Regions from separate parts of the Homo sapiens genome. Here region 2 is linked to region 1. The links come from fine-mapping of genetic effects on gene expression. A gene starts in region 1. The other region holds a variant in brackets. All regions are shown on one strand. Distances are from middle to middle.

Region 1 (5,365 bases):
TTCTCATCTCTCCCGTCACACTGCTCAGGTCAGGGAGGGACTCCCATTGGTCAAATTCTCTTCAGGCCCCTTCCCTTCCTGGCACCAGGATAACTACCATACAAAGTGCTGAAACTCGGCCAGGCACAGTGGCTCACTCCTGTAATCCCACTTTGGGAGACCAAGGTGGATCTCTGAAGCACAGGAGTTCGAGACCAGCCTGGGTAACATGGCAAACCCCATCTCTACAAAAAAAAAAAACAGAAAAATTAGCTGGGTGTGGTAGTGCTCACCTGTAGTCCCAGGTACACAGAAGGCTGAGGTGGGAGGATCACTTGAGCCGAGGTGGGAGGATCACTTGAGCCCAGGAGGTCGAGGCTGCAGTGAGCTGAGATCATGCCACTGTGCTCCAACCTGGGCAGCAGAGAGAGACCCTGTCTCAAAACAAACAAACAAAAAAAACAAAAACAAAAACTGAAACCCCACTTTACTGTGTGTCTAGACAGCCATAATCCTACCAACAGGGTTTGTTACTAGGTGAAAAAAATCCTCTTTTGTTGCAAAAATCTAGTGAAACTAGAGAAGTCGAAAAGTAAAGCAATGCTCTGGAATAAACTCGCCCAAATTAGTGATTTCTCAAGCTTTTTGCCACTGGGACCAGGCCTATTACGCCCTCTCCGTGGGTTCCCAAGAGAGCCACAGCCTAGAAGGGAAGCTGTTCAGTCGGTTCTCACCCACGTGGGACTGGAAATTTCAGACACGGTTATCCGGGAAGACAGCCTGGGCCACAGACCTCCTCGATGACCACACACCGAGAGCCACTTCCCCAAAGGTAACCCCAAGCAGATGGCAAGGCCTCCCACATGCTCTGTGGTTTGGAAGGAAGCTTCCTCTGGCCTCCTCCCTCATTAAGGAGAAGGGACGAGCTGCAGGTGCGGCTCCTTCCCAGCTGGCTCAGGGAATAGAGCCCCTTTAAGGCCAGGCAGCCTTAGCAATAAAAAGAATGAAGGGGGCACCCTTGCAAGGCAGTCCCCCATGCAGTCCCCAAGCCCTCTGCTTTTATTTATTTATTTATTTATTTATTTATTTATTTATTTATTTTAGAGGGAGTCTCAGTCTTTCACCCAGACTGGAGTACCTCTGCTTTTATGAAGCCGCTAATCCAGTGCCAGGATCTAAAGCAAGCAGCTGGCTTCTACCAAGTTCCTGCCATCTCATTTCATCCTCTCCATGCCTTCCATTTTGTAGGTGAGGGGAAGGAGAGCCTTAGAGAAGGAAAGTGACATTTTAAAGCTCACACAGCTAGAAAGCAACTCATGCATCCATGTCTTTCTGATGCCAGAACCCAGCCCCTTGCCACTGTACCATACTGCCTCTTGCCAAGGCCACCTGGGCTAGCCATTTCCAAACCCAGCCTTCCTGCTGCCCTGGAGGCTGGGTTCCTGCCAGAAATTGAGCTAAGCCCTGGGGGAGGACATGGGAGTTCTGAAAAGTTAAGCAGCCTGCCTCCCCTGGAAGTGTCACCGGAAGATGAAAGAACTCTTGTCACCTGACCCAAGGAAGCCAGTCCCATGGCCCAGGTGGTCAACAGGAATGACCCGCAACTGGTTGGCTCGGGCAGCCTGCCCCAGCTGAGTAAATGGCTCCACTGGCACCCAGCTGCTCAGGCCAAAACCCTGGGGAGCATCTTGAATTCCACACATTCCTGCACCCCCACATCCTATCCACCAGCAAGTCCTGCCAACGTGTGTTCCTGTACCAAATGTTCACTGGGATCTTGCTATGAATCAGGTGCTGCTTTCCCTCCTGGGGTCTATCCCCTACCCACACCCTCACCACCATCACAGCTGTGTCTCCTTCCAGCCCCTTCCACAATAGGGATCGTTGGAGTTTTCCTTTCCTTGACTAGGGCTACTTCCCAGTAGACAGCAGTCTCCGCAGGGACAGGGGCATCTCTGTTTTGTTCACTCTCACGTTCCTGGCTCCCACAGTGGTGCTGGCACTCCATAAATTCATACTGGACAAATGACCAGTGATCCTGCCCACGTCTATCCTTGGCCCTAACGTGAACCTTCCCTTGTTTGCCCTAGGATCTCACAGATCCACTCTCCCCTTTGGAGCTCCTCTGTCCAGAGGTCCTGGAGACAGGGAACACTATGCCTGTGCCGGTCACTATGGGGTAGCAGGATAAATGCTGCACGCAGGTAAGACATCTCTGGTGCCTTTCAGGGGTCTTCATGAATCCCCCCAGTGCAGGTGTGTCTGCAGGTCACGCTGTGAGGCTTCTCTTTCTCTGGCATTTCAAGGCCTCCAGTGCATCATGGCAGACTCTCCCTGGGTCTCTGTGGGCCCACATCTGACCCTGTGAATCTCTGGGCAGGTGTGTCTTCCTTCTTTGCATTCATCAAGCAGCGCCAGGCACTGTCTCAAGTGCTTGATACGCATTTTCTTTTTTTTTTTTTTTTGAGACAGAGTTTCGCTCTTTTTGCCCATGCTGGAGTGCAATGGCATGATCCCGGCTCACAGCAACCTCCGCCTCCTGGGTTCAAGCGATTCTCCTGGCTTAGTCTCCGAGTAGCTGGGATTACAGGCATGCGCCACCACGCCCAGTTGACAAGCATTTTCTTGTGTGATCCTCGCAGCAGTTCTCTGTGAAGCAGGCATTGCTATCCTACAGGTTGGGAAAAGAGGGCCAGAGAGGATCAGTGACTTGCTCACGGTCGCGCGGCCTGGAAGACATGGAGAGCTGGACCAGCACGCACAGTCCCTAACCACTGGGACGTGCTGGCGGGGGCTACCTCCGTGAGGTGTGTGTCTCCGGTCGCCCCGCCCCCGGTGTGTGCGGAGGAGCAGGCGGGGACTACAAGTCCCGGCAGCCCCGGCGCGGGCGCTGCGAGGGCCGCAGAGGGCCGGGCGGGGCTTGCGGCGCGCACGGAGGGACTGCGGCAGTGTCGGAGCCGCGCCGAGCCTGGTGGCCCAGGTGCCCCGCCCGCGTCAGCCCTGCTCCAGCCCCGCGCTAGCCCAGCGCCCCTCGCCCCGGGCCGTCCGGACCGCGCCCCCGCCCAGGGCCTTGCGCACGCCGGGGCCCAGGCCGAGGGCCGCAGCGCCGGGGCCGGCGATGAGCGCGAGGAGCCGGCATGAGCGCAGGTGAGTGCGGAGTCCGGGTCGGCCCCGAGCCCGGCGCGGTCCCCGGCCCGCCAGTTGTCGTCACCCCTTGGAGGGAGAGGGGAGGCGACGCCCCCCACCGCGGGGTCGCGAGCCCAGGAAGCGGGACCTGGTTGGGGATCCTGGCCCGTCCCCTCCCTTTTGACGGGGACTCGGCCCCGGTTTCTTCCCAGAGACGCCGGGGCTGGGGATGGCGCCGCCGCTCGCAGCCGGTCCCTCCCCTCCCCTGCACCCCTCAGCCGCGGGATTGGAAGCCGGGCGCTTGTGCAAGAGGGTCCTGGGGCCGTGCGGGGACGGGGAGGCCACCCCACGCCCACTTAATCGGATCCCACCCCGAGTGACGGATGTCCAGGTGGGGGAGACGGCTGCATCCTCGGGCCTCTGGGCAACCCCTCTGGGCTGAATGAATGAATGAATGGCGTTGGGGGAGTCGGGACTCCATTTCCTGGGTAGATGTCCTGGGCCACAGCGCCACTCCTGACCTCCTGCCTCAGACCCCAGAGAAAACCCGTCACACCCAGGGCCAAGGGCCACACCCTCCATGCAACCCATCCCTGGCCAGATGTCCTACGCCCACTCCTCCAGGGTCTAATTTAAATCCCACCTGCCGGGAATGGGGCCAGTCCTCCTCCCCTATCCAGAAAGGTCTCATCTCAGTGTCTGTCACTCAGCCCCCAGCCCCACAGCCTAGAGTGCACCCCCCGGCGAGGGAGGGGAAGGAATGAGGAAAGACAGCCCCTAGAATCCAGATCCAAAGATGGGAAGATGGTTCACACACACTCCCGCCTCAGCCTGGCAGAAGACAGGAGCTCCCCGCCGCCGGGAACCACAGCCAGGGAGGAGGCAGCCGCCCTGGGCCGCTGCCAGGTCACCAGCAGGAAGCCAAGGCTTCCGCAGGAAATAAGAGGTCCCAAATGGCTCTAGCCCCTCTGATCCACAGTGCTGGTGACACTGCCCCGAGCTGTGACCTCAGACGAGGTTCAAGTCCAGTCTTGGCCCCTCATAGCTGTGTGACTTTGTGCTTGTCAATCTACTCCTCTGGGCCTCGTTTTAAATGGGAATCCTAATCTGTACTTTTCATGGAATGGCTGTGGGAAAGAATGTGCCCATTCAGACACACTCATTTCCAGCTTCTCCCCTTTCAAGCTCTATGACCCTGGACAAGGGATTCACATGCTGTTCCTCAGTTTCCCCAGGTGTACAATGGGGATAATAATAGTCACTACCCCAGAGGGTTGTGTGTGAAGCTTCATTGAGTTAGCACACTGAAGGGCTTCCGCAGGGCATGGTGAGCACTCCATGGGAGCTGCTGTTCATCAGAAGAGCAATGACAGGCCAGGCGTGGTGGCTCACGCCTGTAATCCCAGCACTTTGGGAGCCTGAGGCAGGCGGATTACTTGAGGTCAGGAGTTCAAGACCAGTCTGGCCAACATGGGGAAACCCCGTCTCTACTAAAAATACAAAAATTAGCTGAGTGTGGTGGCATGTGCCTGTAGTCTCAGCTACTTCAGGAACTGAGGCAGGAGAATTGCTTGAACCTGGGAGGTGGAGGGTGCAGTGAGCTGAGATCTCTCCACTGCACTCCAGCCTGGGAGACGGGCAGGGGGGAAGGGGGGAACGGGGGGGGAAGACTCCATCTCAAAAAAAAGAGCAATGCCATCATGAAGGTGCTCTCGCCCCCCCACACAGCCTGTGGGTGCCTGTTCTGGGCTGGTCTGAGCCCACAGAAGCCCTGGGGAGACTGGGCTGTGGCTGGGGATAAACAGATGTACTGCAGGAGAGAGTGCCCTGGGCTTGATCCCTGCAGGGAGGGGCTCTGGAGGTTTCCACAGCTGTGACTTCCTCCCTCAAGTTCCACTCCCCTTTTCCTCTTTGCCAAGGTTGACTGAGAGAGTGTCATTGTGAAGTGACAGTCATACGATTGCCATGAGGAAGAACTTCCCAGGGGGACCGCTGTTTACATACTGGGGACTCTGCCCTCTTTTTGAAGAACCTTTTCTTCATAAAGAGTCTTGAGGCCGGGTGTGGTGGCTCACACCTGTAATCCCAGCACTTTGGGAGGCTGAGGTAGGAGGATCAGCATGAGGCCGGGAGTTCAAGATCAGCCTGGGCAACAAAATGAGACCCTGTCCCTACTAAAAAAAAATTAGCCTGGTGCAGTGGCACCTGCCTGTAGTGCCAGCTACTTGGGAGGCAGAGGCAAGAGTACCTCCTTTAGCCT
Region 2 (5,365 bases), 23 kb after region 1:
TGACCTCTGATCCAGGTCTGCCCACCCTCCAGGGACACTGTGGAAGGAGACCTGAGCCTCCTGGGGCTGCTGGTCATGAGGAACCTACTGAAGCCGCAGACAACGCCAGTTATCCAGGCTCTGCGAAGGACCCGCATCCGCGCCGTCATGGTGACAGGTACAATGGCATGTAGGGGCCCGGGCTAGCAGGGCAGAATCCGCCCCTTCCTGGCAGAGAAGAGGGGCACCAGGGATTCCTTTTTGGGGCATCTTTTTGGGCCCTTGCTTCAGGCCAGGTCCTTTTTAAACATTTCGTGAATCTTCACAATATCCCCCCCGCAAGTGGTAATTGTCACCCCTGTTTGACAGATGAGGAAACTGAGACTCAGAGGAGTGGAGTGACTTCCAAGGAACCCATGTGCGCTGTCAGACAGCCTGGGTTCCAGGTGGCACCTCTGAGAAATGGGGATAATGATGTCAGCCTCAGAGGCTGTGACAAGCTCAAGGAGCAGGAAGAGAAAGATTCTGGCCGGGCACGGTACTTCATGCCTGTAATCCCAGCACTTTGGGAGGCCAAAGGAGAAGGATGTCTTGAACCCTGGAGTTCAAGACCAACCTGGGCAACATGGCAAAACTCCGTCTCTACAAAGAATACGAAAATGGCCGGGCACAGTGTCTCACGCCTGTAATCCCAGCACTTTGGGAGGCCGACGCGGGCGGATCACTTGAGGTCAGGAGTTCGAGACCAACCTGGCCAACATAGTGAAACCCCGTCTCTACTAAAAATACAAAAAATTAGCCAGGTATGGTGGTGGATGCCTGTAATCCCAGCTACTCGGGAGGCTGAGGCAGGAGAATCACTTCAACCCGGGAGGTGGAGGTTGCAGTGAGCTGAGATCACGCCATTTCACTCCAGCCTGGGCAACAGAGAGAGACCCAGTCTCAAAAAAAAAAAGATTCTAGCTAGGGTGAGACAGCAGGAGCTAAGAGGTCTGTGTCCTTGTCCTCCCCGCCCCTGCACACACACATATGTGCACACACATTCATGGGCACTTGGCAGCAGAGTCACACAGCAGTAAGGAGTATATGTAGCCTGGGCACATGGCTCGTGCCTGTAATCCCAGCACTCCGGGAGGCCGAGGCAGGGGGATCACCTGAGGCCAGGAGTTCAAGACCAGACTGGCCAACATGGTGAAACCCCATCTCTACTAAAAATGCAAAAAAAATTAGCCTGGTGTGGTCGCACCCTCCTGTAATCCCAGCTACTCAAGAGGCTGAGGCAGGAGAATTGCTTGAGCCCAGGAGGAAGGAGGTTGCAGTGAGCCGAGATCAAGCCACTGCACTCCAGCCTGGGCCACAGAGAGAGACTCTTGTCTTAAAAAAAGAAAAAAAAGGAGTATATGTGGAGCTCCAGCCCACGGCTCCAGGTTCTCCTAAGACCCTTCAATGCCTGGATCTACAGATGAGAAAACTGAGGCAAAGGGATGTTGGTAACCTGCCTCAGCTCACTTGGCTGGTGGTGGCAGACGGATTTCATCCAGCCTGTTTTCCCATCTGTAAGGATCAGGATGAGGATGGCCTCCCCGGATAGCCTCAGACCCTCACCTTGCCCCATAACCCCCAGGGGACAACCTGCAGACAGCGGTGACTGTGGCCCGGGGCTGTGGCATGGTGGCCCCCCAGGAGCATCTGATCATCGTCCACGCCACCCACCCTGAGCGGGGTCAGCCTGCCTCTCTCGAGTTCCTGCCGATGGAGTCCCCCACAGCCGTGAATGGCGTTAAGGTGAGGCTAACCCAGAGTTCCAGCTGTACCTCACCCAGTGACCCCACCCCTGTGTCACCTGACCCAGGCCCCAACTCTCCAGGGTGGGCAGGGGGAGCTAAGCTGAGCTTCCTGGGCCCCCAGGATCCTGACCAGGCTGCAAGCTACACCGTGGAGCCAGACCCCCGATCCAGGCACCTGGCCCTCAGCGGGCCCACCTTTGGTATCATTGTGAAGCACTTCCCCAAGCTGCTGCCCAAGGTAGGGCCGCCCCCAGCTCCCTGGCCGCCCTGCGCCTCCCCTGCTCTGTCTCCTTCCTCACGGCTCGCTCTCCCTGGTGGGTGCCTCAGCCCTCCCCCATCTCCCTGTGCTCCCAGGTCCTGGTCCAGGGCACTGTCTTTGCCCGCATGGCCCCTGAGCAGAAGACAGAGCTGGTGTGCGAGCTACAGAAGCTTCAGTGAGTGCTCGGCAGAGGGTGTGGGCAAGGGCCTGCGGAGACTGAGCTTGTCCGTTCGTCTGTTCATCTGTCCTTCCCCAGGGCCCTGTCTCCCTCCTCAGGCACCAGAGAGCTGTCACCCCTCCTCACCAAAAGCAGGCAGGCTCTCCCAGGTCTTTCATGCTAAAAATAATAATTGTAGGCTGGGTGCGGTGGCTCATTCCTGTAATCCCACCTCTTTGAGTGGCCGAGGTGGGAGGATCACTTGAGCCCAGGAGTTTGAGGCCAGCCTGGGCAACAAAGTGAGACCCCATCTCTTATTAAAAATTTAAAAATTAGCCAGGTGTGGTGACACACCGGTCATCCCAGCTACTCAAGAGGCTGAGGCAGGAGGGTTGCTTGAGCCTGGGAGGCTGCGGCTGCAGTGAGCCATGATCACACCACTGCACTTCAGCCTGGGCAACAGAGCGAGACTCCGTCTCAAAAAATAGTAATAGGCCAGGCGCGGTGGCTCATGCCAGTAATCCCAGCGCTTTGGGAGGCTGAGGCAGGCAGATCACCTGAGGTCAGGAGTTCAAGACCAGCCTGGCCAACATGGTGAAACCCTGTCTCTACTAAAAATACAAAAATTAGTTGGGCATGGTGGCGCACACCAGTAATCCCAGCTACTCAAGAGGCTGAGGGCACTTGGGCAGCAGAGGAGGTTGTAGTGAGCAGAGATCACGCCACTGCACTCTAGCCTGGGCAACAGAGGGAGACTCTGTCTCAAAAAATAATAGGC[C/T]GGGCACGGTGGCTCATGCCTGTAATCCCAGCACTTTGGGAGGCCGAGGCGGGTGGATCACCTGAGATCAGGAGTTTAAGACCAGCCTGGCCAACATGGTGAAACCCCATCTCTACTAAAAATACAAAAAATTAGCCAGGCGTGGTGGCGGGCGTCTGTAATCCCAGCTACTTGGGAGGCTGAAGCAGGAGAATCACTTGAGCCCAGGAGGCAGAGGTTGCAGTGAGCTGAGATCATGCCATTACACTCCAGCCTGGGCAACAAGAGTGAAACTCCGTCTCAAAAAATAATAATAATAATGATAATAATAATAATAATTGCATCTATTCACTGAGCGCCTCCTGTACACCAGGCACCATGTGGCATTAGGGGCCCAGCTGTCATCATATTCTGCCAGCCCACCCATGGGGTGGTGGGGTAATTCCCCAGGCCACACCTGTCCACACCTCTCTTCAGGTACTGCGTGGGCATGTGCGGAGACGGCGCCAATGACTGTGGGGCCCTGAAGGCGGCTGATGTCGGCATCTCGCTGTCCCAGGCAGAAGCCTCAGTGGTCTCACCCTTCACCTCGAGCATGGCCAGTATTGAGTGCGTGCCCATGGTCATCAGGTAAGGCAGGCAGGGACCGGTGGGTGAGGGCTCAGCAGGGCTGGTCAGCCAACCTGGGTCCCCTAATGTCCGTGCCCTGCCACCCAGGGAGGGGCGCTGTTCCCTTGACACTTCGTTCAGCGTCTTCAAGTACATGGCTCTGTACAGCCTGACCCAGTTCATCTCCGTCCTGATCCTCTACACGGTGAGTATCTGCAGAGCTCCGTACCCAGAGCCGTCCCAGGACTAGGGAGGGGACACAGCCCTGTGCCTTGGAGCTGGCAGGTCCCAGAATAGATGACGTGGGCCCAGATCCTGACCCTGCCACTCTCCGGCTGTGTGGTTGGAGAGGTGGCAAGGCTTGGGGGAGATGAGAAAAACACCAGGCACGGAGCCTGGTACCCACTAGGTCCTCACAAATGGCAGCAGCTGTCATGGGCTAACATCTTGACCGCAACTCTGGGAGCTCCCCAATCTGCAGGGAAGACTGAACGGAGGCAGGGCCAAAACCCTCGCCCCCGCCCCATCCCCACAGGTCTGCCCATTTCCCCAGATGCACTTGCTTTGCCCCATACCTTGGCTGTACCTCCCACACCCTACTTGGAGGAGCTCTCCCCTCCCCTGCTCTGGGCATGGCCTGCTCACCCCCAGCGAATGAGGTGACACTGCAGGGCGGCGCACATCTTATACTTGGGTCTGTCCCTGTGTCTGCCTGAAAGCGAGGAGCTCCCTGAGGGCAGGAACTGTGCATGCCCTGGTAGCTATAGGGACTCCGCAAGGCAGAGCCGAAGCCTCCCCTTCGGGCCGGGAGTTTGTTACAGGGAGGGAAACCTCCCCTCAGATTTAGGCCCCCAAGGTCAGCACAGGTGCCCTTTCCATCAGACCAGGGGTTTGTCTCACATCAAGAGCGGCACCTCCTCCGCTGGGCTGGCAGGAGAGTACGGCCCCCATTAGACTGGGGGATGCCTTACCCATCAGATTCCTTCGGGGCAGGGGTGGGGCCTCTGCTATCAGACTAGGGGCTGCCAGGGCCAGGTCTTAGTTTCCCCTCTGTCCTCCCTTCCCTGTGGCAGATCAACACCAACCTGGGTGACCTGCAGTTCCTGGCCATCGACCTGGTCATCACCACCACAGTGGCAGTGCTCATGAGCCGCACGGGGCCAGCGCTGGTCCTGGGACGGGTGCGGCCACCGGGGGCGCTGCTCAGCGTGCCCGTGCTCAGCAGCCTGCTGCTGCAGATGGTCCTGGTGACCGGCGTGCAGCTAGGGGGCTACTTCCTGACCCTGGCCCAGCCATGGTGAGTAGGGAGCTGACTGACCACCCCCATCCCGCCCCTTCCCTGTCCACCCCACGTTCGTTCCCTGACCCCCATCCCTGTACCCCCAGGTTCGTGCCTCTGAACAGGACAGTGGCCGCACCAGACAACCTGCCCAACTACGAGAACACCGTGGTCTTCTCTCTGTCCAGCTTCCAGTACCTCATCCTGGCTGCAGCCGTGTCCAAGGGGGCGCCCTTCCGCCGGCCGCTCTACACCAATGGTGCCACTGCGGGCGCGGGCGGGAGATGCTGGCGGAGGGAGGGAGGAGCCCTGGGGTGCTGGGGAGGCAGATGGGAGAGAGGTGCCGGCCGAGTGGAAGACTGGCGTGCACACGTGTGTCTGTGGGTGCCGGGGGGGCGTGGCTCCTGCCTGAGAGACTCTCCTGCTCCCAGTGCCCTTCCTGGTGGCCCTGGCGCTCCTGAGCTCCGTCCTGGTGGGCCTTGTCCTGGTCCCCGGCCTCCTGCAGGGGCCGCTGGCGCTGAGGAACATCACTGACACC

What was found. PIP is the estimated chance that this variant, and not a neighbour inherited with it, causes the effect. A credible set is the group of variants that fine-mapping cannot tell apart.
Region 2: its variant is the best candidate, but not a certain one, in a credible set for the expression of ATP13A2 in lung (TOPMed, PIP 0.77).

What each region holds. Positions count from the first base shown.
Region 1 is chr1:17,009,490-17,014,854 of GRCh38, reverse strand. It overlaps ATP13A2 (ATPase cation transporting 13A2), which reads left to right and starts at 2,927. Exons shown (of 29, transcript NM_022089.4): 1 at 2,927-3,126. The coding sequence starts at 3,117. RefSeq lists a silencer at 2,763-3,292 and enhancers at 3,783-3,832, 4,596-4,675.
Region 2 is chr1:16,986,526-16,991,890 of GRCh38, reverse strand. ATP13A2 (ATPase cation transporting 13A2) reads left to right here. Exons shown (of 29, transcript NM_022089.4): 20 at 33-157; 21 at 1,604-1,764; 22 at 1,888-2,004; 23 at 2,121-2,200; 24 at 3,417-3,569; 25 at 3,657-3,753; 26 at 4,622-4,845; 27 at 4,935-5,086; 28 at 5,259-5,365. Among named protein-coding and RNA genes, the nearest start is that of MFAP2, 8.6 kb to the right of the region's middle. The variant C/T (reference allele first, on the strand shown) is at 2,961.